7 linked regions of the Homo sapiens genome follow. The protein of the gene in region 4 interacts with the protein of the main gene of each other region in a pairwise test. Each region holds a gene or a part of one and is shown on either strand. Other genes may lie near its edges.

Region 1 (3,689 bases), on a different chromosome or scaffold from region 4:
GTCAGTCTCCACCTCCCTGCCCAGGGTTCCACCCTGCAGGGTACTGAGGCTCCCTTCACTTCACTGTCCCCTTCTCTACTTTCCTCCTGGGAGCCACAGCCTGGACCTAATGATGTCCAGGAGCGGATCGATCCTGCCGCAGACTGATGGCCCAGCAGTGCCCTCGAATGCCCACAACCAGTGCCAACACACCCATTCACCTGCAGAACCCTTACTGTGCACCTGTGGCCCAGGAAGCAGACCAGGCGAGCTGGGTCCCCTCCTGCCTCACAAGCATTCTGGGCACCTGGGGAGCAGCTCTGAGCTGCACGCATCTCCCACAGCCCCACCCTCAGGACAGGTCAGAAGGCAAGGCCAGGGCATACAGGCCAGAGATGCTCAGGGGCCAGTAGAGCCTGGTGCTGGGCGGCCCAGGCTGAGGCCGTGCCCCGGGACCAGGACCGGGCTGGCACCAGGAACCTGGCCCATGTCAAGACCACTGGCCTTGTGTCCCCACCCTGTGCCGCCACCTGCTCCTCTTGGAGCAAGCCTGCAGACATTTCTGCATACCCCACAGGCCGAGGAAGGTCCCTTGGAAAACTTCCAAGGCTGGGGGTGCACGGATCAGCTACTGGGGCCCCCGACACAGGGCAGCTTTGGCTCCGGGCTCCTGTGGAGTGGCTCTAGCCCAGCCCCAGTCAGGGTGGGGACCCCTCACTTGCCCCAGGAGCAGGGAACATACTTTCCCTGCAGCGTGCAGCCTGCAGTGCTGCCCACCCCATCCTAACTCCTGAGGACTGGCTCAGCCACCACTCTCGTGAGCACAGCTCATGCTGCAGCCCCGTGACCAGCAGGCCCACCCCCAGGCCTGCCATGCCACCCTCCATGAGTCCCGGACCCCACCCCTCCCAGCTCCAAGAGGAGGCACAGCCTGGCCCTGCCCATGGCATCCCCAGGCCTGTCCTCAGCCCCACAGCAACCACCTGCATGGCCTGCCACCAGCTACTCCTCCTACAGGAGAGCTCGCCGTGTCCCGAGGGCCATCTCAGGTCAGGGTCACTGCTTCCCGCCCCTTCCCCAGTCCTCTCCAAGGCCCTGGTCACAGAGCTCAGAACCAGCAGGCAGAAGCTGGAGCTATGCAAGCCTTTATTGGGGTCCGCGGGGTGTGGGGTGAGTGGCCAAGACTGGCCTCTGTCTAGAACCCTGGAGTCTCACTGGAGATCCAGGTTGGGGGCCACCTGGCTGAGGAACCATGAGACACCAAAGATGACGCCGAGGGTCTTGGGGATGTCCGGGTCGTCTGCAAAGGCCTGGGCGCCTTCCAGGGGCAGGTGCACCACCTCAATGAGCTCACCCTCCTCCACCAGGCCCCCACCTGGACCGCTACGCTGGGCATCTGTCACCTCTGTGTAGAACATGGTCTGTCTGGAGCCAGTCAGTCCCACTCCAGACCTACGGGTTGAGACAGGGTCTGCTGAGTCACCCACGCTGGCCCCGCTGGCCCCCTGGCCCTTCTACCACCCTCCAACCCACCCTCTCCACTCTGCTCCCTCCAGCCCTCCAGTAGGCAGGACTCTGGGATGCCCTCTCCCACCCGGATTCCCACCTGGTGTGCACGCCCGTGGCCCCTCCCGCAGCAGGGCATCCCTTCCCTGATCACGTTGTACTCGCCAGGTGGGGTGGGTGTTGTCGATGTGATTAAGGACCCTAACCGGTGACTTGAGCTCATCAGAAGGGAGAGCATCCTAGGCGGGCATGGCCCGATCACGAAGCCCTCCAGAGGGTGTTTCAACGCCAGAAAGGGAGAAATTCAGGCCAGTCCTGCTGGCCCTGAAGGGGAAGCAACCGCCATGCTGGGAAGGGCCAACAGCCAGCAGGGAGGTGGGACCCAGTCCCCAGCCACCAGGAGCTGAATTCTGCCATAACCTCGTGAGCCGGGAAGACCCCAAGCCCCCATGAGATTGCAGATCCGGCTGACAACCTGCCTGCAACCTGTCAAGGCCAAGCAGAAGACCCCACCCCTGTCTGCAGCCCCCAACCAGATACCCTGAGGCTGTTCCCAGTGCTGTTTGGAGCCCCTCAGTCTGTGGCCAGCTGCAGAGGCCCATGCCAGACCCCAGCCCATACCCGGGGACACAGGCTGGCTGGGAAGCAGGGACAAACCCACCAGGCCTTCCCGCAAGGGTTCCCCACCAGGCACCCACAGGACACAAGTTTCAGACTAGGAACAGCATGCACTGACCGCCCCCCCACCCCCCGTAGCATGGCAGAGTGGGGTGGGGTGGCAGCGAGGTCCTCAGTACCAGGCCCAGTGGCCCAGGCTGGGGAGGGGTAAGAGGAAGCCCCCTCCCTCAGTGGGCAGTGGCCAGAAGGGGGCTGCTGGCAGCCAGGAGGGGTCAGGCACCAAGGGAAGGAGCCTGGACTGGCGTGTGTGGAGGGAGACCACGGGCTAGGAGGACAGGATGGCAGAGGGGCTGGGCTGCATTCTGGAACAGGAGGGGGAGGGCCAGGTGTGGATCTGGGGAGAAACGGGACTGAGGGGCATCTGGGAAGATGACCAGGGGGTGGGGGAGCCCTGGCTCGCCGCAGGAGGGGCTGTCGGGTGCCATGAACCAAGGCCAGCCGGAGGCCTGCAGGGTAGAGGCCGCCCTCTGAGATGTACCCAACATACAGGGGCAGGGACAGAACTGGGGGCTTCCATGCCCCACCCCCAAGGCCTCCCCACCTCCGGGGGGACTCACCCCAGACCGACCTTACCCAGCTGCTTCCTTGCCCTCTAGCCCCTCACCTCCCGCAGACCCCTTCCTGATGGCCCATTTCCGGCGGCGGCCGCGGCTGCGCCTCTGAGGGAAGTGGCGGGTCTGGGGTTTCCAGCCCCGGTTTCCGCCGGCTTGTGAAGGAGACAGGCCCGGCCCTTGGCCCGGGCTGAGAGGAATCTGCCAGCCAGGCTGGGCAACGCCTCCCCCACCCCAGGGCACGTTCCAACTTCACTCCATCACGCCCCAAGCTGACTGCCTCCCTGGGCCTTGTCCTTTGCAGCGGCAGGTAAGAGGCCTGGCTCACCTCCAGAATCAGAGACAGGGAGCCACGGGCCCTGCCACAGGGTGGGTGAACTTTGCTGTCAGTCCAGCCCCCCATCAGGCCCTCAGAGACGGACACCCTGACCCCTAGTCAGCAGCATCTCCAGTCCTGCATCCCTGAAGCCACGGCCTGCTCTTCCCGATGCGAGTCTAAGCAGGATGCCTACTTCCCAGAGCCCTCCTTGGCTCCCCAGCACCCTCACAATCAGGCTGTGGCCCAGAGGCTGTACCAGTAGAACCACCGCGGCCAGGGCTGCTTGACCACTTGCCCTGAGAGCCTGTGCGGTCCCTCTGCCAGGAACCTGCCCAGGCCCACCTCCTCCAGGGGGACCAAGGGGACTCCAGCCCCTCCCATGCCTCCCGGCTGTGCTCAGTACTATGGGCTGGGGAGCTGGGGGCACAGTGGGCGTGGCCCACCACGGGGTAGACACCTGCAGAAAACCAAGGCCCATCCTTCACACCCAAGTCCACCCTTCGGCATGGAAATTCTGTTTTGTTGAGACAGAGTTTCGCTCTTGTTGCCCAGGCTAGAGTGCAATGGCGCGATCTCGGCTCACCGCAACCTCCGCCTCCTGGGTTCAGGCTCACCGCAACCTCCGCCTCCTGGGTTCAAGCGATTCTCCTGCCTCA
Region 2 (4,252 bases), on a different chromosome or scaffold from region 4:
GGACTACAGGCGCCCGCCACCACACCTGGCTAATTTTTTTGTATTTTTAGTAGAGACGGGGTTTCACCGTGTTAGCCAGGATGGTCTCGATCTCCTGACCTCGTGATCCGCCCGCCTCGGCCTCCCAAAGTGCTGGGATTACAGGCGTGAGCCACCGCGTCTGTCCAAGATCTATATTTTTATTTATTTTTTTGAGACAGGGTCTCACTCTGTCACCCAAGCAGGAGTGCAGTGGCAATCATAGCTCAGTGCAGCCTCCAGCTCCTGGGCTCAAGGAATCCTCCTGCCTCAGCCTCCCAAGATTCTGTCTCTACAAAAAAAAGTGTAATTTTTGACCAGGCGTGGTGGCTCACGCCTGTAAACCCAGCACTTTGGGAGGCCAAGGTGGGTGGATCACAAGATCAGGAGTTCGAGACCAGCCTGGCCAGGATGGTGAAACCCCGTGTCTACTAAAAATACAAAAATTAGCCAGGCGTGGTGGCACATGCCTGTAGTCCCAGCTACTCAGGAGGCTGAGGCAGGAGAATCACATGAACCTGGGAAGCAGAGGCTGCAGTGAGCCGAGATCACGCCACTGCCCTCCAGCCTGGGTGACAGAGCAAGACCCCGTCTCAAAAAAAAATAAATAAAATTTTTATTAAAAAAGAAAGAATAGAAAGCAGGGTCTCTGACAAATATCTGTACACCCGTATTCACAGCAGCATTATTCACAATAGTCAAAAGGTGAAAGTGGTCCAAGTGTCCGTCAGCGAATAAACAGGTCAGCGAATGCGGTCTACATAGATGAGCGAATGCGGTCCACACACACCAAAGAGTCAAGTCTCATCCTGCCTTAAACTGAGAACATGCTGGCCGGGGCGCCGGGGCTCATGCCTGTAATCCCAGCACTTTGGGAGGCCGAGCCACGTGGATCACTGGAGGTCAGGAGTTCGAGACCAGCCTGGCCAACATGGTGAAATCCCATCTCTAACTAAAAATACAAAAAAATCACACTTCTAATCCCAGCATCCTGGGAGGCTGAGGCGAGTGGATCACGAGGTCAGGAGATCAAGACCATCCTGGCCAACATGATGAAACCCCGTCTCTACTAAAAATACAAAAATTAGCCAGACATGGTGGCACACGCCTATAGTTCCAGCTACTCGGGAGGCTGAGGCAGGAGAATCACCTGAACCCAGGAGGTGGAGGTTGCAGTGAGCCGAGATCACACCACTGCACTCCAGCTCGGGTGACGGTGCCAGGCTCCGTCTCAAAAAAAAAAAAAAAAATTAGCTGGGCTTGGTGGTGCACACCTGTAGTCCCAGCTACTTGGGAGGCTCAGGTGGGAGAATCATTTGAACCCGAGAGGCGGAGGCTGCAGTGAGCCAAGACCATGCCATTGAACTCCAGCCTGGGTGACAGAGAGAGACTCTGTCTCAAAAAAAAAAAAAAAAAAAAGAACATGCTGACGCATGCTGCACCATGAGCTAATTGAAATAAGCCTGTCACAGTAAGGTAAATACTGTATGATTCCAGTCATATAAGATCCAGAGAGTAGTGACATTTATAGAAACAGAGAGAACGGTGGATGCCAGGGGCTGGGGAGAAAGCGCACGGGGACTCAATGTTTAACAGGTACGGAGTTTCAATTTGGGAAGATGAAAACAGTTCTGGAGATGAATGGTGATGAGGTTGTATAACAACATGAACATAATTATGTCAGTGAAGGTATGTACAGTCAAGAATGATTAAAATGGTAAATTCTGTGTTACATATATTTTACCACAAAAAAATTACTGTGACAGTTTTATTTATTTATTGAGACAGTCTCACTCCGTAACCCAGGCTGGTGTGCAGAGGCGCGATCATAGCTCATGGCAGCCTCAAACTCCCTAGCTCAAGCAATCCTTCCACCTCAGCCTCTCGAACAGCTGGGACTACAGGCACCACCAGGCCCAGCTATTTCTTTTAGTTTTTGTAGAGACAGAGTCTCACCATCACCATGTTGCCCAGGCTGGTCTTGAACTCCTGACCTCAAGCAATCCTCCTACCTTGGTCTCTCAAAGTGCTAGGATTACAGGCATGAGTGCCTGGCCCAAAAAGTTTTACAATTTCTATGTAAACAAATTTCAGGCTGGGCATGGTAGTTCACACCTGTAATCCCAGCACTTTGTGAGGCCAGCGCGGACAGATCACTTGTGCCCAGGAGCTCCAGCCCAGGTTGGGCAACCTAGTGACACCCCATCTCAACAAAAAATACAAAAATTAGTTGGGTATGGTGGCACATGCCTGTAATCTCAGCTACTTGGCAGGCTGAGGTGGAAGGATCGCCTTAGCCCAGGGAGGTCAAGGCTGTATGTAGCCAGCCATGATTGTGCCACTTTTTGTTTTTGTTTTTGTTTTTTATTTTGAGACAGTCTCACTCTGTTGCCCAGGCCGGAGTGCACTGGTGCAATCTCGGCTCACTGCAACCTCCAACGCCCGGGTTCAAGCAATTCTCCTGCCTTAGCCTCCCAAGTAGCTGGGATTACAGGCGCCCGCCACCACACCTGGCCAATTTCTGTATTTTTAGTAGAGACGGGGTTTCACCATGTTGGCCAGGCCAAAAGTAGTATGTTCCTTCGTGGTATCTGATATGCATATCAGAAAGAGTTCTGTACTTCACTGGTGTCTAGAGCACCTAGTCTCCAGATCAAAGTACACGTTCCATGCAGGGCCACAAGACAATTTACTGAGAGGCAGGAAAAAAACACACTTTTTAAAAAATTATTATTTTATATTTTAAAAAAAGGCCAAGTGCAGTGGCTCACACCTGTAATCCCCGCATTTTGGGAGGCCAAGGCAGACAGATCACCTGAGGTCAGGAGTTCAAGACCAGCCTGGCCAACATGGTAAAACCCCGTCTCTACAAAAAATACAAAAATTAGCCGGGTGTGGTGGTGGGCACCTGTAATCCCAGCTACTCAGGAGGCTGAGGTAGGAGAATCACTTGAACCCAGGAGGTGGAGGTTGCAGTGAGCCAAGATCACACCATTGCACTCCAGCCTCTGAGTGACACAGCAAGACTCTGGGTCAAAATTTTAAAAATCTGCGGAATTATTCAGGCAAAAATCAAGCCAAAAAAAAAAAAAGGAGAAGGAGAAGAAGGAGGAGGAGGAGAAGGAGGAGAAGAAAAAGGAGAAGAAGAAGAAGGAGAAAAAGAAAACAAAACAAAATTAAACTGTCTAAACCTGTCCACAGGAAAATGCTGTGTGACAAACTCACCTGGCTCAGCCTCATGTCCATCAGAGTGTTCCTCGCTTGGCCAATCTTCCTCATGTCCAGCTCACCTGTGCCAGGTGTCATCAGTCCTGGCGTCATTCCACCTGGGTATGGAGTGTTTAGTCCACCTGGATAGGGTGTGTTAAGACCTCCAAATTGCTGGAGGGGAAGAGAGGAAAGGCAAGAATAAAACAACGGTTTGCACTGCATGCCCAAGAAATTTACTCTCTGAAATACTTCCCCAGTGGCCTGACATATGCACAGCTGTGCAGACAGACTCGGCCACAGCATAGCCATGACCTGCAGAAGCATTGAATCCAACACCACCCACCATTCCTGCCACTGATCTAACAGGACTAAATGGGCCACATGTGCCCTTTTTTGGAAGCTCACAGTTTGTCGGGGATCCACTGAGGTATGGTTCTCTCCGGTCTGTAAATGTTTGGCAAAGAAACTGTCAGGAACAGGGGTCAGCTTCTCATAGCGTGGGTTCCGCTGACGTTTATTTCTGGCATCGCCAACCTCGGGGATGCTCAGCCACTCTTCTTCTGTGACTTCTGCCAACTTCCTCTGGAAATATCCAGCCCCCAAAAACATTAATTCTCTGACAGAATTTCATGTGCCCAGGTAGGACCATGCCCTCTCTCACCCCTAGCCTCCAGATCACCAAGCTTTAGAAGGGATTTGGATGCAGCAACTGTTTTTTACTTTTGTTTTGAGATGGGTCTCATTCTGTTGCCCAGGCTGGATTCAGTGGCACAATCACAGCTCACTGCAGCCTCAACCTCCCAGGCTCAAGTGATCCTCCCACTTCAGCTTCTCAAGTTGCTGGGACCACAAGCGTGGGCCACCATGCCTGGCTAAGTTTTTATTTTTTGTAAAGACAGGTTCTCCCCAAGGCTGGTCTCAAACTCCTGGGCTCAAGTGATCCTCCCACCTCAGCCTCCCAAAGTGCTGAGATTACAGATGTGAGCCACTGTACCCAGCCCCAAAAATAGTTTTCTACTTCACT
Region 3 (4,883 bases), on a different chromosome or scaffold from region 4:
TGGCCTCCCAAAGTGCTGGGATTACAGGCGTAAGCCACTGCACACAGCTGAGGTTTCTTTTTTAAATAATGAAAATGTGCCTTACCAGACAACTTGAAACATTTTAAAAACTGAATGTTTGTAGTGAGAGAGATTTTTTTAAGGAACAAATTTGATGTGTTTTAACCTGACCACACTTTATTCTGCTCCACACCATTCCAGGGCTAAATCAGTAAATCCTAGTCCAAATTCCTGTGACAGGAGAGGCCCTGAACATAATCAAAATGCAACTATCAGTTTACCTGATATGCTTTGACAAGAAAAAGTGGGAAAGCCTGCCATTTGTCTCTTAAAAACTGTAAGTTGAGAGGGGGAGAAAAGCCATTTTCAAGACTACAAAAGTGTAGCACCCACTAAAGGTTGGAAAGTGCTTTTGACACCACCTGGACAACATGGCAAAACCCCATCTCTACAAAAAAAAAAAAAAAAAAAAAAGGCTGGCTGTGGTGGTGCTCGCCTGTAGTCCCAGCTACTTAGGAAGCTGAGGTAGGAGAATCAGCTGAGCCTGGGAAGTTTAGGTAAGCCATGATGGCACCATTGCACTGCAGCCTGGGTGACAGAGACCCTGTCTCTTAAAAAAAAAAAGAAAAAAAAGTGAAGCACCAATGGCATCTCATAATCCACAACTCATACTCTCACTAATATGCATGTTAATTTTAATTTTAAAAATTAGCTTATGCCTCAGGGACGCTCCTACCCTTTTTTTTTTTTGTAAACAGAGACAGGGTCTCACTATGTTGGCCAAGGTGGTCTGAATTCCTGGCCTCAAGCAATCCTGCCTCGGCCTCCCAAAGTGCTAGGATATTACAGGTGTGAGCCACTGTGTCTGTCTGGCCTTTCTTTTCTTTTATTTTCTGAAGACAATGATTACAACTTTTAGATTTTTTTGTAGATACAAATTTGTCAATAAATAAAAACCTTTCAGATCCAAATCTTCCAAAAATTCCTAAAATCCAGCTATTTCTGTTCACAATGAATGTGCTTATTAAAAACTTCAGAGGAGAAAAAAGTGATACAGAAGACACATTAATGTTCAAGCAACTTAAAACAAAAAGGTAGATTTAATGCAGTAACAATAATCTGAGGATAAATAAATCCACGACAGACTTTAAAGTTTGCAAATCTGTTTCCTTTCTTTGCAGAGAAAATGGTTTTCTGAAAGCACACAGGACTGAAGATGTCAAAACAAAACTTAATTTCTTAGTCTCCAGGTGACACAGGCTTGGTCCTCTCTGCTGCCCTCCGAACACTTGTCACTGGCCAAGATGGTAGTTTCTCTTGTTTAGCTCAGGATGGATGTTAGTTTCAAGAATAACTGGATGGTTTGTTTCCTGAATCATCTTCTTGTGAGCCCATACTCTGTAAAGGTAAAGTGAAGTTATGTATTTATGTTTGCTTTTATCAAGGGTTCCCCGGCAGCCCAATAAGCACACCAGTTGCCCTGTCCCTCCCAGAACAAAGCCCCCTGTGAACAAGGGCAGGCAATTCCAGGAACCACCCTAAGCATCCCTAAGTGTACTTCCAGGCCATCATTTGAAAATGCTCTCAACTAGTATTTCTCCATGACCGTACTGGTAAGGTTTTCAAGAAATATTTAATAACCTGAAACTTAGTTCCTGTGCCTGATGTGACAACACCCCTCCTTCTCCACCCAGCCTACTTCTTGTAATAAGGGAACCCTCATCACCTTTTGTACAAACTGAGGGTTCACTGTGATCTCCTGGTCCATGGCTTTCAGCCGCTCATCCAGCTCAATGCACTTCAGCATCTGCATGACAGGCACATTAGAAGGTGGTCAGCGGCGGGTTTAGGTCAGCTGCATCCTTTCTAACTTACACTGTTCACAAGGGTGCTATAGGTTCACAATCTCTTGATGTGAAACCCCTGGGGCCACATGGGTTTTGGAGCCAGAGTATTTTGGACTCAGAAAGCTAATACATCTATCATATAATACCAAATATCCCACCCAGCAGGATCTAGGCAAACCTCATAATCAAACACATAGTATCTTTTGCAGTGAAACGAGTATATTCATGCTGAGATAAATGAAGACTAGACACCATTTCAGGTGACATTTTGCCATTAAATTAATTACAAAAAAACATAGTTTTCTGAGATTTAATATTCAGTTCACTTCCCTGCTCAGAGGTAAGAAACACAGACCACCCACAAAACTCCCCCTTCAGCCCCCAGAATCAGAGGCAGCATGCCCTCAGGAGACACAGAGGTGACTGCTGCAGCTGTAGCCAGGCTGTTGCCTAAAGGGGACCGTCAGGGAGGGCTTTGCTCTTCTCCTCCAGCCACCCCGACTCTGCTTCTCACATAGGGAGAGATGTTTCCTAACCTCCCAACCTGGAACTCCACAGACATTTCAGCAAAAACATAAGGCTCTATGTTGTAGGTGGCAGCTGGGAATAGATAAAGTTATACTGGGCCCTTTAAGTGTTTTCACAGTTAAGGGAGGTTTTGATGAGTTAGCTGGGATATCTAACCCACCATTTATTTACAGCCATACAATCTGAGAGAGTTTTGTTTTTTTGAGACAGAGTCTCCCTCTGTTGCCCAGGCTGGAGTGCAGTGGCGCAATCTCAGCTTACTGTAACATCTGCCTCCCAGGTTCTAAGAGACTTTCCTGCCTCAGCCTCCAGAGTAGCTGGGATTACAGGCGTGCACCACCACACCCGGCTGATTTTTTATTTTTTTTAGTAGAGACGGGGTTTTGCCATGTTGGGCAGGCTGGTCTTGAACTCCTGACCTCAGCTGATCCACCCACTTCAGCCTCCCAAAGTGTTGGGATTACAGGCATGAGCCACCACACCCAGCCTGGAAGAGTTTTAAGCAGCCCATTCTGGGTTTCTTTTGTTGTTGTTGCTGCTTTTCTTGAGACAGAGTCTTGCTCTGTCACCCAAGGTGGAGGACAGTGGCACAATCTCGGCTCACTGTAACCCGTCTCCAGGGTTCAAGCAATTCTCCTTAAGCAGCCCATTTTGAAACTAACTTTCTAGTAACTAAGATGTTCACAGACTGGGAACTACCTGTACTTAAAACTAAAATTATCCTGGAACATAGGAGCAATTTTCAAATACATCTCAACCATCAATTAAAAAAATAAAAACCTGGCATTCATGTTTACCTCCTGATCAATGTTATGAAGCATGGCTGGGTTATTATATTTTTCAGGGTTATCATGGAAACTGACCATACCGTCCTTCTGGTTAATACTTGCAAAAATCTCACCATCTTCTATCTGCAGAAAGAAAAAAAAAAAAATCAGGAAAGCAGTTTAGACCTGAATGCTATATGAATAGTCATCCAGTATAATCACAGAAAAGCATGGAAGGCAACATGGATATAAATAAACTTGTATATTTTTAAGCGCCATCTGTTTATCCAAGTATTTATTAAATACCTACTATTTGCTAGGCACCATTATAGATGCTAAGAGGTGTAAAACTGATACACACAAAATCCCTGCCCTTGCATTTTTGTTATTGAGGTGAAGTCCACACAACATAATTAACCATTTTATTTATTTATTTATTTATTTATTTGAGATGGAGTCTCGCTGTCCCCCAGGCTGGAGTGCAGTGGTGCGTTCTTGGCTCACTGCAACCTCTACCTCCGGGGTTCAAGCAATTCTCCTGCCTCAGCCTCCCAAGTAACTGGGATTACAGGTGCCCGCCACCACACCAGGCTAATTTTTTTGTTGTTTTTTTTGAGATGGCGTTTCGCTCTTGTTGCCCAGGCTGGAGTGTAATGGCACAATCTCGGCTCACTGCAACCTCCGCCTCCTGAGTTCAAGCAATTCTCCTGCTTCAGCCTCCTAAGTAGCTAGCATTACAGGCATGCACCACCACGCCTGGCTAATTTTGTATTTTTAGTAGAGACAGGGTTTCTCCATGTTGGTCAGGCTGGTCTCCAACTCCCGACTTTAGGTGAGCCATCCGCCTCGGCTTCCCAAAGTGCTGGGATTACAGGCGTAAGCCACCGCGCCCAGCCATTTTTTTGTATTTTTAATAAACACGGGGTTTCACCATGTTGGCCAGGCTGGTTTCGAACTCTTAACCTCAAGTGATCTACCTGCCTCGGCCTCCCAAAATGCTGGGATTACAGGCATGGGCCACCACATCTGGCCTACCTTTTTAAAGTGAGCAATTAATTGGCATTTAATGCATTCTACAATGTTGTGCCACCACCATCTCTATCTAGTTCTGGAGCATTTTCGTCACCCCAGAAAGAGGCCCTAGGCCCATTAGCAGTCCCTCCCCATTCCCTCCTTCTCCTCCCAGCCCCTGGAAACCACCAATCTGTTCTTGTCTCGTATGGATTTGCCTTTTCTGGATATATGAATGGAATCATATACTATGTAATCTTTTGTGGTCTGGCTTCCCTTAGCATGATGTATTTGAGGTGCCCTTGCATTTTTCAACATCAGCTGCACTGAAATATAACTTACATCGCCTTTTTTTTTTTTTTTTTTGAGATGGGGTCTCGCTCTGTTGCCCAGGCTGGAGTGCAGTGGCTTGATCTCTGCTCACTGCAACCTCCACCTCCTGGGTTCAGGGGATTCTCCTGCCTCGGCCTCCTAAGTAGCTGGGACTACAGGTATGTGCCACGATGCCCAGCTAATTTTTTTTATTTTTAGTAGAGATGACGTTTTGCCATGTTGGCCAGGCTGGGCCACTGTATTTTAAAAAGTAAAGCCTAACACGTTTTCTTTTCATCCCAGTGGAAACTATCTTCCGATTCTTCAAGAAAACTTTACTACCACTGGGGATTCCAAGGTAGATTCAAGGTCTATATATTATTTATTTGCATCAGTTACTGGGGAATTATTTGACTGA
Region 4 (4,252 bases):
TAATATGGATAGATGCAGGATTAAAACATTGGTGATATATGATGATTAGAGCCTGTTCAGCAGCATGAGAAGCTTAGAGGTAAAGAGCTTGGAGTCTGGACTCATGTTCAAATCTAGGCCTCACCAGGTACTCAAGGTACAACCTTGGGAAAGACATTTAACCTCTCTGGGCCTCATGTTCCTCAACTGTAAAACTGATCATTGCATTAGCTACCTTATTCTCTGTAACATAATTGTGCCCATCTGACACAGAGGAAAAGCCAATGCCAACATCCCCAGGGTTGGTAGACGCTATCCAGTACTACCTGTAGTATATAGGTATACAGTACTATGCTACATAGTAACTATAGCAGCAAAAAGGAGACACCTGGCTTTCTTAGCGTGACTAGATGAATACTGTATTGATTACATATTACAGCAATTATAATAATTAAGCAATGATTAGATTATGGTGATGATGATAATATTGTTTAAATCAAGGTATTAGAATTAATGAATAACAAGAACCAACACTATAAACAGAACATTACCATTGTAGCCCAAGCAGAGGGGAAGGAAAGATGGAAGCCTTCCTGGCAATGCAGTAACAAGAATGGTGGCCCACACACAGACCCAGTTCGCAGCAGGCAAATGAGAAGACCCACATTTTGGAGGCAGAACCATTCATTAATAACCCAAACACAAACAACTGCATGATCACAGGTCCTCTAAACATACTCATTTCCCAGAGGGGAAAGGGACACCCTTCAGAGAGAAACAACTTCTGATGATGGTTTAACAACACAAACACAGGTGATGTCCAGGAAGCACTCCAAGCATGGCCTTTTCCCAGAGAGATGCCAAGGCCGGGCCTGCCACCCCCATCCACGCACACATGCCACCTCACCTGAGCACCTGCATCTCATTCTTGAAAGCCTGGGCCTGCTCAGCTGTGGGCTGGGACACCTTGAGCACCTTCACGGCCACATCGCCATGCCACCGCCCTCGAAACACGGTGCCAAACGAGCCCGTCCCGATCCTCTTCAGCAGCTGCACCTCACTGGGTGGTACCTCCCAGTAATAGCCTGAGTCCCGGTACCCCAGGTTCTTCTGTGGGCCAGATGGGTGGCATCTAAGAGGCCTGCCCACATCCCTCATCCCACGTCACTCAGCCTTGGTGGCCCCAAAAGGATCCCCCTCGAGCATACCACTTTCTTCTTGTCATCGGCCAAGGACTTCCGCTCGCGCTGCTCTGCTGGTGACTTGGAATGTGGGGACTTCCTCCCCGAGGACACGCTGGCTGGGCTGGGGCTCCCCCGGGGGGTTCCATCACTACCTCCTCTACTACCGGCAGCTGCAGTTGCAGAGAGGATGTGAGTGGAGGTAAGTGGGGCAGCGGGGGTCAGGGTGCAGGCACAGGGGACTCACCATCAGTGCTGAAACTCTGGCCAGTGAGCTAGAAGAAGAGGGACAGGAGTCAAAAAGAGGGCATGGAGGCCAACAGGGATGGCTCTACCCTCTGCCCTGTGGTCCCCGGCATTGTCCCCCACAGCACCAACCTGGATGAGGTTGGAGTCCATGGGGGCCGTGGTGCTGACCATATGGACGTTGGGAGTGGACGTGGAGCGGATGCGCTGTAGGGGGGCATTGGCTGGGGCAGGGAAGGGGAAGTGCTCCGGGTCACAGTGCTGGGTGCGGGGGCTGCCAGGGGAAAGGCTGTGAAATCACTGCCAGGAATCAGAGAACCGAGAAAGCCCCCCACCCCACCCCCAGCCATAAACATGCATTTGGCTCACACAGAGCGAATGTCCACTGGCAGTACTATTATTCATTGCTTCAAGAAACATTTATTGAGTGCCTGCTGTGTGCCAGATACCATTCTAGGTGGTGGAGATAAAACTGTAAAACAAAATAACAGTTCTTGCCCTGGTGGGGCTGAAATAAAAAACAAATATATAATATGCCTGATGGTGATAGGTGCAATAAAGAAAAATAGTAAAGCAAAATAAGGAGACACAAAGTGTTCCTAGAAAGTGTCAGGAAAGGTTTCTCTGAGGAGGAGATGACAATGGAGTAAACGCCTAAAGGCAGGATAGCAGGCCACACAGATAGTGGGGAAAGGGTAATGTATCATATTTTATAATTATATATTATAATTACATGTACTTTTCAAATGTTATATAATATGTATCATCTATATAAAAATGGCAATGTTTTAAAATATACATATTACCATATTGTTATACATACATGTTATACATATGATATATGCTAAACATATTGTAAAGTTACAAAAATATGTTAATGTTCCCTTCACTATCCTGAAATGAAACTCAAAGGTAATTAATGCACATACACTCATAATTTAAAATAATACCCTAACTTTATTTTATGTATCATATAAACATGTATGATGTTCTACATTATATAAAATTATGTAATACAACATGATACAATAACATAAATATACCATAAAATATGCACATCATAAAATATATATTAGAGCAATAATATATTTTAATATAGCTATAGTTTTATATAATATTTAACATAAAAAAGCAATAAAAGGGAAGTAATTTATGATAAAATAATACGTATTTCAAAATGGAAAGGCTTGAGTATGATTATACTAGAATTAGCAAAGTAGTTAGATGCTTATAAATATATTTATAATTAATAACAAAAAAATTGATTATTTACACTGTACCAGATCCTGTTCTAGGCACTGAACATGTCTTAACTCATTTAAGCCTCACCAGAACCTTTATATGGTAGAAAGTATCATCATCCCCTCTTTACAGATGAGAAAACTGAGGCCCAGAGAAATGAGGTGACTTGCCCAAGGTCCCAGTTTCATGCCCTTACTCACACTTGTAGGTGCTCAATAAATGTTTGTCAAGTAAACAAATGAATAAAGTATGGCTCGTGGTCTACAAGAGCCCCAAGATCTTTTTCTCCCCCAGCAGCTCTTCAGCTAAGGCATCCCTACCTGGGACCCTGGGGGGTTAGCAACTCATTCAGGGGGCGGTTCGAGGGAGCCTCATGCTGTCTGGAGCCTCCGGACAAATCCTGGACACTGTGGTAGAACCTTGAGGGCATGAAGGGTATAAAGCAAGGGGACACGGGTCAGCTGTCTGTAAGGGCCTCGTGGCTGGGCCTCTGTGCTCCCCATCCCCCCACCCACCCCAGGCTGGGCTCACTGTTGGCGGTTGGTACTCATGTCAACACAGACTGTGGGGACCTTGGAGGAACAATGCTGGTGGAACTTGTAGCCACAGGTTTGGCAACGGAAGCCATGGAACAGAAACTTAAGGCAGAAGTCACAGAACGCCAGGCTGAAGAAGGTCTTCCGTACCTGATGCCACAGAGCAGGGAAGTTTGAGACCTGGTCAAGGACACCCCCAACCATGGTCCACCCCCACCGTCCACCCTGCACTCACAAAATTGTGCATGGTCAGCGGGACATCTTCAAGGACCTCGACAATGAGCTCCTCGCCATCCAGGGGAGCAATGGCTGTGTCCCAGGCAGTGACCGTCTTTCGTCTGCAGGGGGCATGGAAAGGAATGAGTGGGAGGTTGGGTAGGGGCCATGGGGAGGCAGGGAACCCCCACAAGTCCCTCCAAGCCTGCTACCCACAGGGTCATGTCTGGCATGTTTAATTCTCATCACAGCAACTCTAGAAATTAGTCACTATCCTTGCCCCAACTTTACAGATGGGGAAACAGGCTCAGAGGGATAAAGTGACTGGCCCTGGGCCACAAGGGTAATGAGAGGCATGACGGTGTGAAGAGTCCATGCTCTGAAACGGAAGGGGAGAAGCAAATGAAACTAAACAACTACATCTTAGAAGCGCTAAGCCAGCCCCTGAAAAGGGGGCTGAGGAGGCACTGAAACAACAAATAAAGTGCAGTGTGTGAACTGCATCATAAATTAAGGAAACCCACGAGAGAGGAATAAATAAAGTCAGCAAGACCCAACTCAGCAGACAGAGAATGGGGAAAATGAGGAAGAAGAGACCTGATGAAGTCATGACATCGTGAAAGGACAAAATAGATGAAATCTGGGCAGAAGTGATGGACCAGGGTGAGGACTTGGGGGCCAGGGGAGAATGAGTTGCTGACCTTACAGGCCAATAAACCAATGAAGTAACAAAACAAAAGATGGATGAACTCATAGATTACTTGAACTACAGTAGTCCTCCCTTATCTGTGGTTTCACTCTCCATGGTTTCAGTTACCTGTGGTCAACCGGGTGGGAAAGTATTAAATTGAA
Region 5 (4,252 bases), on a different chromosome or scaffold from region 4:
ATATACTAATACTACTACTAATAATAATACAGTAATTTATACTGTACATGTGGCAAGGGAGAAGACTGCAGGCTGACTGGGAGAGAGAGAAAAAAAGGGGACTTTTTACCATATACTTTTTAAAAATAGTTTTTGATTTTTGATCCATGTGGACTTACGTATTTAAAAATGTAAACACTGTATTAAAAACAAAATTTTAAAACTTAAGAGTACAACTTACCAGTCATATTTTCATCCAGTGGTAGAGAGACTCCTACATCACAGATTTTAATTGTTTCAAAATCGCCTTTAATTACAACATTTGAAGACTTTATGTCTCCATGAAGCAGTTTCTTTTCTTGGTGCAGATACTAAAATAGTAAAAAATTTAACACATATGTGCAGAAACACAAACTAATAAAAAAATGTGATAACCTCCAAATATAACAACTTGAACTCCCTTCCTAAACTCTAGGTTTACATTTGTCCAGCGTTTCAAAATTTTTTTTTTTTTTTTTAAAACGGAGTCTCACTCTGTTGCCCAGGCTGGCATGCAGTGGCACGATCTCGGCTCACTGCAACCTCCGCCTCCTGGGTTCAAGTGATTTTCCTGCCTCAGCCTCCCAAGTAGCTGGGACTACAGGCGGGCACCACCACACCTGGCTAATTTTTGTATTTTTAGTAAAGACGAGGTTTCACCATGTTGACCAGGCTGGTCTGTCTCGAACTCCTGGCTTCAAGTGATCCGCCTGCCTCAGTCTCCCAAAGTGCTGGGATTACAGGTATGAGCCACTGTGCCCAGCATTTCAAAGTATTTGAAACAAGAGAAGGGAACATCCCATGTTATCTCAGTCTGCCATACTGACCAGAAGTCTAAAAGTTTATTTAGAAATAGATACTTCTGCTAACCTTTTATACTTATAAAATAAATAATTATAAGTTAACTATTTTTTTCCAAGACAGAGTCTTGCTCTTGTTGCCCAGGCTGGAGTGCAGTGGCGCGATCTTGGCTCACTGCAACATCTGCCTTCCAAGTTCAAGCGATTCTCCTGCCTCAGCCTCCCGAGTAGCTGGGATTACAGGTGCCGCCACCATGCCCGGCTCATTTTTGTATTTTTAGTAGAGATGGGGTTTCACTATGTTGGCCAGGCTGATCTCAAATTCCTGCCCTCGTGATCTGCCTGCCTTGGCCTCCCAAAGTGCTGGGATTACAGGCGTGAGCCACCACACCCAGCCAAGTTAACTATTTTTATATATAAGTATGTATATATACCGACAGCTTATAAGTTAACTATACTTATAAATTGGTTAACTTGGTAAGTTAACTAATCCTACATACTTTATATCAGAAGATACAACTGCAGATTTCAAAAGATACCACAATTTTGAGGCTAGTCTAGTAATTTTTAGAAATAATTTTGGAATCTTCAGTGAAGCATACATAAATTGTTGAGACCATGTGGGACAATGAATGACTAGGGCCACATGTACGTATAAGGATGTTTTGGTCAATGATGGACAACATATACGACGGTGGTCCCATAAGATTATAATATCATATTTTGATTTTACCTTTTCTATGTTTTGATATGTTTAGTCACACAGTACTTACCACTGTGTTACAACTGCCTATAGTATTCAGTACAGTAACATTCTATACAGGTTTGTGGCCTAGGAGAACTGGGCTATATATACCACATAGCCCAGGTGTGTAGTTGGCTCTACCATCTAGGTGTGTGTAAGTACACTCTATGATGTCCGCACGCACAGTGATGAAACTGCCAAATGACACATTTCTCAGAACATATTAAGCTACACATGAATGTAATTTGGAAGCAGAAATGTAAGCCTCTATTTTGTTTTCCGCTAACCCCTTTTTGGAACTGACAAGTAACAATATCCATCCACATTCAAAGATGTCCTGCAAAGTGATTATTTGTTCATTTAAAATATGAACAAAAACAGAAGTCATTTAAAATATAATGACATAGTTACCTTTAACCCTCTTGCCATATTCAAAGCAACTTTTAAAATTATGGCTGCTGGAAAAGGATCTTGGCTGGCTTTATATCGTTCTTCTATTAAGTCATTTAGAGACTTTTCACCTCCATATTCCATAGCAAGACACAGACTGCCATCATTGGCTTCAGTAAAAGCACGATAACCTTAAAGAAAACATGACATTTCTTCACTAATATAGAGAAGAACAATAATATTTAAGTCCTTTATAGTAACGTGATTGAAAATATGGATCTGGACTAACGCTGACAAATATACAATGAAACAGCTACTATTTACAAGACTAATTCAGTAGATCTCATTTAAAATGCCTTCAGTGTTTGCCAGTAGTACCACAAATTAAAATACTTTTATTTTCCTTTGCTTCCCTAAATATAATAGTTTCACCAGCCCTACTTGTATTAAAAATGAAAAATGAAATCCAGGAAATTACCTAAATGGATTTAAATTATCTAAATGAAGATCATTTTATATTCTTAAAATCTTCATAGAACTAGCAACATAATTATTATATCTGTTCTCATGAAGTTTATATACTTAGGCATCAAAAAATACTATATGCAAATTTTTATTTTAGACCAATCACATTAATTTGATACCCATTAAATATCCAGCCCCATCCTCTTCATTTCTATTAGTGAAACCAGTTAAGAGAGCATATAAGCTGTTTCTGAATAAACAAAATAATATACCAGATACTGCTACCAAATTTAAACGTACCAACAATGTTTGGATGATGAAGGCTTTTCAAAATCTTAGCTTCATCCATTAGTCTCTTTTGATACACACTTCGATAATGATCATTACATATAGGATTAATCTTTTTTACAGCCCAAGGAGAATGAGACAAACCTCTTGGAGATCTAAGAAAAAAATTCATTTAAAAAGGATAGAAAACAATAAAACCACAATACTTTTTAAAATGACTTCCAAATTTTTGGGAAAAAGCTTGAAAGAAATTTGCTTTTAAAAACAGAATTTAAAATAGTTTGGACTATGAACACCTCTGCTACATTTCCATTTCAATTGGGAGGTAAGATCTAATATACTAAAACAAGTCTTACTATCTATACTGTGGAAGGGAGAGGATGAAAAGAATTTGAAGGGTAAAGATGGAATGTTACAAACTTTAAACCTGAAAATTGTAACTTTCCAATTTTTCCATTTGAGCATGTTGGACTACAACTTATTAAATATTTAATTATATGTATCAGAGATGAGTTATAGGATCCTGAAGAAAAAAACATTAGGAAATTTAAAGAAGAGATAATCAAGAACATTTTACCCATATATCATCATCCAAAGAACAGCATGCTGTTCTTATTGCTCCCCTACACTGACCAATTCACCTTATACCTTTTACCACATGCTCAAAGATATGTGCTTAAGGAGATAATGATGAACATACAAATGAGAAAATTTTAAACTTTCTATTTTCTAGGAAGATTCAGCCATTTTACAAATATTTAAGGTATAAATGTTTTAAGGCCTAAATAGGTAAAATAAAGTCAGGGAAAGGTTTACCTGAGGTGGTAGATATTTATGAGTAGAGCAAATCACAAAATACTTAAGTATATGCAGCATAACAGCACAAAACCTAGTGAAAGAGCCTCAGAAGTTTAAGACAGAAAGTTTAATGGTAAGAACACAAAACAAGAGATTGAATCAAAGATCTGTTTAGCTTTGGACTCCCTCACAGGTATAGCTCTAAGACTGCAGAACCTTTTTTGTTTAATCAAAAAGCCTATACTAAAAGGATCACAAGATTTCTTAATTCATGTACATCTATCATCCGTAAGTTGATCTAAACTATTCTTAAACCTCCAGTTTTAAATAACAGCAGCATTTGAGGATAATGATGAGCACCTGCATATCATTTTATTATGAAAAATATATTTTTCAAATTTCAAGGGTTGAAAGTTTAGCTCTTGAAAGTTTAGAATTTAGTAAACAAGTCAATCTTCACCTTTTCCATAACATATTCTAATCTATCGAATAAGAATAGATTTATGAAATCTGAATACTCAACCATGCAAAAAGCTGGTTCATTAAAAAGACTAATAGAAAAAAGGCAAATTTCTGATGAGATTACACAAGAAAAAATAAAGACAATATCACAAATAAAAATGGAAACAAAACTACAGATACAAGAGAAAAAATATGTAAGTAAATAAAATCTTTATGCAATCATTTAAGACAAAATGGTCAAAGACTTAGAAAAATCTAAGAAAACTGATGAATGAAGAAATTTAAT
Region 6 (4,252 bases), on a different chromosome or scaffold from region 4:
TGATTTAAACAACCTATTCTCAAAAAAAGAAAAGGAAAAATCAAATTTGTGTCGTATTGCCATAACATTCAGTATGTAAATGAGCCCTTGAGTAAGCAATAAAATAACAGCAGAAGAAATGACTTAGAACATTCTGAAGCCAGGTTAAACACAACTATGGCATCGGGTATATAAGTACAATAACAAAACTTCAAATTAAAAAGATCCATCTGTTGTTTGAAGCCTAATTAAAATTCTAACCAAATTTGCTAATGTATATTTTGTTTTACGTACAAAAACAGGCATCCATGTGTCCTTGTTTTAACTTCAGCACTTACATATCTGTGAAATGGGAGGAACAGAAATGTTTCTTCTCCTAGATATGAGACTCCACCACTAAAATGTTCTGCCTGTAAAGCCTTAAGCTAATTCAGCAATAGATTCCATAAAAGGTTTGAAAAAAAAAAAAAAACACCATTTAAAAGTCAGTAATTCCCTTGAGCTAGTAGTAAAAATGAAAATAATTTACTCTGGGATTATGGTATTGCTGTTGAATCATTTATCTACGTAAACTATTTGCACTTCAGAAAAAGTAGAGGCCCCACATGTTTTTTTTCCATTTTCACCAAGGCCTAAGGCTATATAACATACGTGCTTTCTGGCTTACCTGATGTTTCTAAGCTATTAGTTCGCCTCAGTACTCATCCTCTTAAAAAATAAATCTGAACTAAGCACTGAAAAGTAGAAAGCCTAAAGCCAGAATTTATTTCAGGTAATTATTGTGTAGATAATATGGTAAAAAGTTAAAATCAAGTAAATGAAATCTTATTCTTTTATTCTTGGAATTACACTATTAAGATATGGATTTTTGAAATTTAGAATTTCAGCACAATTTGTCTTTGAAATATTTCATGAGACTTCTCTGCAGTTACAAGGCCTAACACTTCAAAATTCTGAAGCACTGTAACAGCAGTAATCAATTAGGCCTTACCACATTCTCAGTTAATAATCTTACAACATTCCAAGTTAATATTAAGTCATCGGTCTTTGGTTAAACATAAGCCAATGTTAAGGGGACAAAATCAAAAGGTTAATTTACTTAAGTACTTTTATGTTTGAACATTTATAAACAAAAGATTAAGATTTATGAATCATTTTTATTCTAATAAGGTTTCTCATTGTAAATAAAATACAGCATTTATAAAAATTTCATTACAAAGTATGTTCATAAAGTGTAGGTTTATTAATATGCCTTACTGAGCATCTGCTATGTGGCAAGTTGTTCAGAATCCTGGAGGAACCTACATATCATAAGCTAATTTTTACTGTATGGTGGTGATAAATTAAAATGGTCTTATATTTCAGTCTGCATTATAGAAGAAACTTAGTAAAATTCTTTCATAATGTAGCAACCCTATTGATTCATTTATGAGAACTTCAAATTAGTCAGTTACCTCCCTATGAAATTTAAAAGATCAATGTATAGCATTTAACAAGTTGAAAAAAATAAAAAGCAAACAGAGTAGCCTTGAAAATATTTTTATAAGTTCAACTCATTTAGATCACATGAAGAAAATCAAATGGAAGCTAAAGATCCCTAGGGCTAAGGAGCCTAACACAAACTTTGACCTTGGCCCGCGCAGCTTTTTTCGGGCCTCCGTCATTGCAAATGCCCCAGGAAATACAAATCCCATCAAGGGCAGTCAGCGTAGCATACCAAACTCCTCCTGAAGGCTTGAAGTGAATTCTAGCATGCCCATTGCCTAAGAGATACTGAAAACTTTCTACAGCACCCCTCAATTTTTGGAACAGGTTGGAAATATGAAGAAAGTCTAATACAGATGTAAAGGCAGAGGAATAGTCTCCATTTCCATAGCAATAAGACCTAATGTCACCTCTAGATCGTCAGAAAGTCTGGCTAGACATGAGCAAATTGGAATGAGGGAGAGGAAAGCACAGGTCAAGATTAGTACTAGTCCCTTGGGCAGTTCTACAGCCAGAATGCTTAGCTTCTGACCCAAAGCTGGGACTAGGGTACTGAGTGATGTGCTTAGGGCCTAACTCTCAAAGAGATACACCATGACACTAACAGTGACAGCCTCCTTAAATTTTGCATCTCAGGTACCTCACTCACTTAACCTAGTCTAGGACATTTAAACTATAGTTTTTTCAAGAGTTTTATGTCAAGAAGCTCATAATGTCAAGGCGTTGTTGGTGACTAATAAATGAATCTATATTTTAGAAAATTGGGGATATAAAAAATGGAAAAAATTAAAATGTTCAAAAGAAAGGCCATCTCCCAATTAGAGAAGTATTGCATGCCAAAAGTATGTAAAGTTGTCCATCAGGCAAACTAATTCTGCAACAGCTCATTTGGGACTGAACACAATTAATATTTCAAAAATGTAGTTTGCCATAGATGAAATCCGTCCTAAAATGTGTCTATATGTAGTAAAAGTCCAATAAAATAGTTATTCTTAAAAGTGTGTGATAACCCCATCCCCACTCTTACATCTAACGTGTACAGAGGCTCCAATATGATAATGAGTTATATTTCCTGTGACTATCTTTAAAGCTACTACAATGTAAGTAAATTATTCTAATTGTAGGAGTTTTTATAGTTGCCAATTTCTAATCAAATGACAATAGCTCCTCAAGACGGAACTAAATAGATACTTCTATGTGAAAATCAGAATATAAAATCTTAAAAATGAATGCCTTTCAAAAGAAATAATGACTACCAGTGCTCATTCGTAGCTGAAGTATCAGAGAGGACACTTGGATTGTTAGGTTCCTAGCTTAATTATAACACAGGTCACCATTGTTAAAAAATGAGTGGATTAATGTTAGAAGGAGTACTTATTGAACACTTTTCTATTCATAGGGAACTTAAGCTTTACAATTTAATACTTTTGATTTCCAAATTCATTTGCAAGTAAAAATAAAACTATTTAGCTTTGATGACTTTCCCAGACTTGTGAACTCAGAATTCTGAAGTCTGTAAGTTTCTTGAAATCAGAGACTATACTCTTATGATCCACTTATTTCTATTTATCATTCTTCCTGTATACTCCCATGGTAGAGGTTCCGTGTTTATTAAAGAATAAATGAATGAATGAATGAAATAGGTTATTATGGTGTCTATTCTGCCTTTTGGAATTAAATTTGCCATACTGAAAAAAAAAGATTATTTGCTTCATTTTCCTTGAGTCTGATTTATTATAAGAAATATCTTCTTAGAGATGTTTAATATTAAGGCAAAGGTGAACAAATCATTATTATAAATATTTGAGAATTCTTATCAAATACCTTGTCATTGCAACAACTTGTAGTCCATAAAAAACATAAGGACTCTTTGATCTAACCCTCTACTAAGTCCTTCTACTAAAATGTATAGAATGGAATTTTTTTTTAAATATCCAGTTTTTGCTTTAAAATGTTCAGTTTAATGGTTTAAATTTAAAACTTTAAAGATTTTTGAGAATTGTTCATGTGTGACAATCACATAATTTGTCAAGTAAATCAGTCATCATTTGCACTATACAGATGACAAAACTTAGGTTCAGAGAATATGTGACTTGTCCAAGAACAGGGCATTAGGAAATGCATAACAGGGGTTAGATTCCAGATCTTTTTGTGCCCAATCCAGAGTATATCCCACTATTACACTGTTACAGCCTGCTGAATGTAATAATGAGTGCTGAACATTTTCAGTACTAATGGAAAAAGATTATGGTATCTAAAACTTTTTAGTATTTAGTATTTTATGGTTGTTGATCATTTATACCCTTGATATCAACTTTCTTTAAAATATAGAGCACCTTGAAATTCTTTCCTCTTTCCTGTAAGTAAAATACAACTGTGCCGATTGGCAAAGCACTCTATAAATATTAGCCGCTGACAAATACCCAGGGAAGGGCCACATAAAATTATAAGTGCGTCATTGCTGTCGTCAAACCCACCGTCTCTGTCATCAAAGAGAGAGGAAAAGCAAACCTCTAAATATGTCGAAAAAGCAACCCAATTTACAGGGCAATGATTATAGATGTGACTACAGGGTGTCTTTCCCAATCCATTTACCATCTATAACTGGACATAATGCTACTAACCTTTAAAGTGACTGTTCTCAGTGCCCTTCACTGACCATTATGTAACTACATCCTAATGATTTTAACTATCTTTAAAATATGATGTCCATCTAAAAATAGTAAATTTGGATATATTTTTCTAAGACAGTTGAGTTTTTAAAGTGAAGGCAGGAAGAAAAGTAGAT
Region 7 (4,252 bases), on a different chromosome or scaffold from region 4:
CATCTTTCTGTTCTGCCCTCAATATAATTGACGATTAACAGCTTCTCTCATTACTGTACACTTAATAAAAACCTTGTCATGGGGGAATCCACAGTGCCCTAATTTACCGTCTCTCCTCTTTCCTTCTCACATGAAATATTTGGAGTAGAGAAATAAAAACAAGACACCACCCTAAAATTACCTAGCAACTTTGTCTTCTCTCCCCAACCCAAAGCAAGAAAATAGGTGAGTGAGGACATTCAGAGGGAGATGATACGACCTCCTCATCTGGCCCCTTGACAATTGGAGTTCCAGAGGGAGAAACTTGCCTAAGATCACACAGCAAGTTCTTGCCGTCAGAATCCCGATTTTCTTCCCTGTACGACACTGACTAAATTCTGTGCTTTTGGGGAGAGCCTCCAACAGCACACACAAAGTACCAGGGCAGAGTGAAGGCTGGGCTCCAGGAAGCTTTCCCCAGGTGGGTGGTAAGGAGCCACGGGGATTGGAACAGACTGTTGATCTCATGGCTTTGACCTTCTACGGGGATGAGGCCCCCATTCTGGGAAAAAGGTCCAGCCTCCGTGGAATGCTGTCAGCTACCATTCCACATTCAGAATAGTGCATTCCAGGTTTTCATCACTAACCACCTCCTTCAGTTCATTTTTGCTCAACTCTGCTTGACTCGCCCCACCCCACAGGATGCCATTTCACAGTGACTTCAGGCCAGTCCTTATCTTTCCAATAGGGAAGGCAATACACTTTCATCACGTATGCCAATCCTGATCATTTGGTAGTGCCTGCAAGCAGCCCTGAGATACCTCTGGAGTCAACAGGATAATGCCAGCATTGACTGGTGATGCCTGCCACAGGCATGGCAAGGGCATGCCTGTGGCAGGCCCTTATTATGATAAGACAGGTGCAATACTGGAACCCACCCCACCCCCCGCCACACTGACAGCTCCCAGAGGATGGGGGCTGCTTCTGTCCCCATTCCACATGCCCGGGGGACTGATGGCTATTTATGGAGCACTTCCAGTGTACCAGTTCCTGCCACCATACATGAGTTTGAACCCAGATCTGTCCAACTCCAGTCTAAGCTGTTAGCCCTCCACTCCATGCCACTCTGGGCCCAGATGGCAGTCCTGGTCCTGCCACTAAAGTGCCTGGGACTTGAAGCAAGCCCTCTATCCCACCCCTCCCCAGCCCTGGCTTCCGCATCTGTAAATGGGGTGCTGGTCTGTGGCTCCTCAAGGTCCCTCCCAGCTCTCCCTGGAGGGTGCACACCGCGCTGGCTCCCAAGGGCAGGCTGCGACAAAGGGGCATCTAATCACATGTTAATATAGGTAAGAGACAAAGGTAAGCCCGGATAAAAAGGAGCAGCTAATTAGTAACATTGTTCTCAAGGCCTCCCCAGAGCTTCAATTAGGTTGTTTCTCCTGAATAACAGCAAGCAAGGAGCTAAAGCCACAAGAAAGAGGCGAGCCTGCCTCCCCTTCCGCGCTCCCATGTCTTTCGAGGCAAGCCCGTCCCCGCCCCGGTCCATGCTGCCATGCCTTTCCAGGGAAACGCAGACAGGTCAGAGCCAGAGTGATGCAACTCCCAGCGCCTACCGCATTACACTTGGGGAAACTGAGGCCTAGCGATAGATGACAAGTCCAAGGTTGTTGGGCAAGGCAGGGCAAACCTGAGACCAGAAGCAGGCATCCTGCCCTCCGGACCACCACCCTTTTCTTCTGGCCCACATGGGGTGATCGGCTCTCTTTGGATTTTAGAATCTTAGTAAAAATAGCCTGAGAGACATGGGGCCGTGACTATACCGTGGCCAGGTGATATTTGGTTGTGGTATCTTTTCAAATCAACCCTAAGCAAAGAGACCTGAACATTTACCGAAACAGGAAGCCCTGACCCCACCACCAGTATAAAAATTCAGGTGCCCAATTCAGGGGCTGCAACTGCTGAAACCTTGCTCTTTCCCTCTTAGGACCCCCAAGAAAGAACACAGCATGGCTTTATCACACACTGGCAGACCCTCAGGGAGCTGAGATCCCCTTGGTGTATGAATGGGGAAACTGAGTCCTGGAGAGGAGGGTTGTGGTCAAGATGAAATGCTGATTGGCTGACAAAGGGAATCATGGGCTTTGGCTACTAAGAGAAGACAGAGGCACCTGCTTGGGGACCAACTGCCCTGCTCCTGGGCCCAGCCACAGGCGGATACGAGGCTAGGCAGGCTAGAGGCCAGCCGAGGTGGCAGGCATGTCACACTGAAGCTCAGCCTCAACTGCGGCACAGCCCCAACTGTGGCACAGCCCCATCCCTGGAGAAAAGGGCCAGTGAGCCGTGCCTGATGCTGGGACAGGTCCTTAGGCCCTGGCCGGCTCCCAGTGCCTGTGCAGCCACAGCGCCCACCCCTGGCAGGATTTTCGCCCTGCCTGGCCGGCGGCCTCCATGCGGCCTTAATGACCACGAAATCGGGCCTGCACGGTCTGCCTCCACACCCGGCCTGCCCACCCCAGACACAAGACAGCCTGACCTCCAGGCCTGGCCCTGGCCTCCCTGCTCCTCGGAGACTCCCCAGGCCCTCCTGGGCCTCTCCCAGCCCTTGGACAGCTCTTCTCATAACACCCTGAAAGTCAGGGGCAAAGGGCCCACGATCCCCACTTGGCAGGAGGGAAACTGCGGTCTCACGGGGTGTGGTGAAAGGACGTGCCCAAGGTCGCCCACGGAGCATGGGGGTAGTAGCGTCCAAAGGGGACAGGGTCTCAGGGATCTCTGGGTTTGCTGGGTCCCGAGGCAGGCCCTGAGGGAGGCTGAGCAGACTCACCTCGGGACTTCATTCCAATGAAGCGGTTCTCCACGATGTCAATACGGCCCACGCCATGCTTGCCCCTGTGGGAAGAACTGGTCCATTAGGTTCGGGCGCTACCGCAAGGCTCAGAGTCACCCACCCAGCTGGGCTGTCCCAGGGTGGGCACAGCTTAGGCCACACATTAGGCAGCATTTCAGGATCTAAGACTCAAGAGGACATCTGAGCCGGGTCACCTAGTCCAGGTGCCCACTGGACAGGTGGGGAAACTGAGGCCCAGAGAGAGCAGGGATTGCCCAGGTGTGAGTTCACATTGTTCCTTCCGTTCCCTGTGTCCTGGGGCCCTGCCTAGCGCCACAGCTAACTACTGCTCCCTTTCCTTCTATCCTGGCCTCCCATCCAGCCAAGGGCCTGAGAGCCCCGGCCTAATGATCCCTTGGAGGCAGGAGACCTCCTGGGGTTGTTATCTTCCAAGGCTAAGGACCACGGAGCCTCTCCTGCCAAATGGGTCCCCCTGGTCCGGGAAACTCTGTGGCTATGGGGAAGGGACATGGCCTGTGCTCCGCACCCCTGAGCCTCAGCCACAACCATTAGCTGCAACGGTCCAGGCTCGTGCTCGCCCGAGACGGCGGTTCCCAAGAGGCCGGACAGGGCTGCAGACACTCACGCGACTTCGTTCAGGTACATGAAGAGCTCCAAGGAGGTCTGGTGGGTGGTGCCATCCTTGACGTTGGTCACCTTCACAGGGACCCCTAGGGTGGGAAGAGAGGGCAGTGGGCCTCTGGGCCCGGCTCAGCGGAGGAGTCTGCACCCGCCACCCCACCCTCTCCCTCCTCCCGAAACGCCTTAAATGGATGTGACAGATATGGACTCCAAATGACTCCTTCAAAAGCCCTGTGCAGGTTGAGGCCTGCTGCAGGGAGAGAAGGGGCGAGAAAGCCCCCCAGAATGAAAGAGAAAATGCAATAAAAACGCTCTCCCCCACCCTCCCATTCTCTTTGCCCCTTTTGCATTTAGGGGCTGTGAAATTGGAACCAGGCCCTGAACTAATTGAATTTCACGCTCCACCATTGTCTTACGCCGGGAGCACCTTCTGTCCCACCAGTCACCCGGGGGCCGCCTGGCCGAGGTGTGGCTGGGCTCAAGCACACACATACTCGCTCACACACACACACACACACACACAGCCCCCTGCCACGTCTGTCAGGCGGACCCCGCGCCCCGACCCTGTACCCCAGACCCACACGCAGCCATCTGATTGATGGGGGTGACACGGTGCCCGCTCCAGCAGGCGAGGTGTCGGCAGCGTCCCTGAATCCGAGGAGCTGGGTCCGGGGTGGCAGGAGGGAAGGGGTTGGGTGGGGGCAGTGGGTGGGTTCGGGGTTGACTTTGAATAGCAAGGGGCACTTTCTCGAGCGGTGTGAAATGAGCAATAAATGTATTGGGGCTAACAAGAGAGCTGAAACA

Evidence for each region.
Region 1: the proteins of ARAF (region 4) and NUDT14 interact in binary tests that used the Homo sapiens proteins (3 or more experiments, as listed by UniProt).
Region 2: the proteins of ARAF (region 4) and PRPF6 interact in binary tests that used the Homo sapiens proteins (3 or more experiments, as listed by UniProt).
Region 3: the proteins of ARAF (region 4) and COPS3 interact in binary tests that used the Homo sapiens proteins (3 or more experiments, as listed by UniProt).
Region 5: the proteins of ARAF (region 4) and PBK interact in binary tests that used the Homo sapiens proteins (3 or more experiments, as listed by UniProt).
Region 6: the proteins of ARAF (region 4) and CPS1 interact in binary tests that used the Homo sapiens proteins (3 or more experiments, as listed by UniProt).
Region 7: the proteins of ARAF (region 4) and ASS1 interact in binary tests that used the Homo sapiens proteins (3 or more experiments, as listed by UniProt).

The regions. Positions count from the first base shown.
Region 1 is NC_000014.9:105,171,831-105,175,519, forward strand, and holds the end of NUDT14 (uridine diphosphate glucose pyrophosphatase NUDT14), read right to left. Parts: exon of another isoform or gene 3,658-3,689; intron 1,432-3,657; coding exon 1,191-1,431; 3' UTR 1,109-1,190; downstream 1-1,108. UniProt on the Homo sapiens protein: Hydrolyzes UDP-glucose to glucose 1-phosphate and UMP and ADP-ribose to ribose 5-phosphate and AMP. The physiological substrate is probably UDP-glucose. Poor activity on other substrates such as ADP-glucose, CDP-glucose, GDP-glucose and GDP-mannose.
Region 2 is NC_000020.11:63,994,474-63,998,725, reverse strand, and holds part of PRPF6 (pre-mRNA-processing factor 6), read right to left. Parts: intron 3,811-4,252; coding exon 3,634-3,810; intron 3,400-3,633; coding exon 3,244-3,399; intron 1-3,243. UniProt on the Homo sapiens protein: Involved in pre-mRNA splicing as component of the U4/U6-U5 tri-snRNP complex, one of the building blocks of the spliceosome.
Region 3 is NC_000017.11:17,245,754-17,250,636, forward strand, and holds the end of COPS3 (COP9 signalosome complex subunit 3), read right to left. Parts: intron 3,287-4,883; coding exon 3,173-3,286; intron 1,808-3,172; coding exon 1,727-1,807; intron 1,399-1,726; coding exon 1,345-1,398; 3' UTR 863-1,344; downstream 1-862. UniProt on the Homo sapiens protein: Component of the COP9 signalosome complex (CSN), a complex involved in various cellular and developmental processes.
Region 4 is NC_000023.11:47,564,067-47,568,318, reverse strand, and holds part of ARAF (serine/threonine-protein kinase A-Raf), read right to left. Parts: intron 3,523-4,252; coding exon 3,420-3,522; intron 3,335-3,419; coding exon 3,180-3,334; intron 3,077-3,179; coding exon of another isoform or gene 3,068-3,076; coding exon 2,969-3,067; coding exon of another isoform or gene 2,965-2,968; exon of another isoform or gene 2,344-2,964; intron 1,681-2,343; coding exon 1,539-1,680; intron 1,436-1,538; coding exon 1,408-1,435; intron 1,334-1,407; coding exon 1,188-1,333; intron 1,090-1,187; coding exon 887-1,089; intron 1-886. UniProt on the Homo sapiens protein: Involved in the transduction of mitogenic signals from the cell membrane to the nucleus. May also regulate the TOR signaling cascade. Phosphorylates PFKFB2.
Region 5 is NC_000008.11:27,820,345-27,824,596, forward strand, and holds part of PBK (lymphokine-activated killer T-cell-originated protein kinase), read right to left. Parts: intron 2,862-4,252; coding exon 2,719-2,861; intron 2,145-2,718; coding exon 1,975-2,144; intron 351-1,974; coding exon 221-350; intron 1-220. UniProt on the Homo sapiens protein: Phosphorylates MAP kinase p38. Seems to be active only in mitosis. May also play a role in the activation of lymphoid cells.
Region 6 is NC_000002.12:210,559,068-210,563,319, reverse strand, and holds part of CPS1 (carbamoyl-phosphate synthase [ammonia], mitochondrial isoform b precursor), read right to left. Parts: intron 1-4,252. UniProt on the Homo sapiens protein: Involved in the urea cycle of ureotelic animals where the enzyme plays an important role in removing excess ammonia from the cell.
Region 7 is NC_000009.12:130,479,001-130,483,252, reverse strand, and holds part of ASS1 (argininosuccinate synthase), read right to left. Parts: intron 3,538-4,252; coding exon 3,453-3,537; intron 2,869-3,452; coding exon 2,804-2,868; intron 1-2,803. UniProt on the Homo sapiens protein: One of the enzymes of the urea cycle, the metabolic pathway transforming neurotoxic amonia produced by protein catabolism into inocuous urea in the liver of ureotelic animals.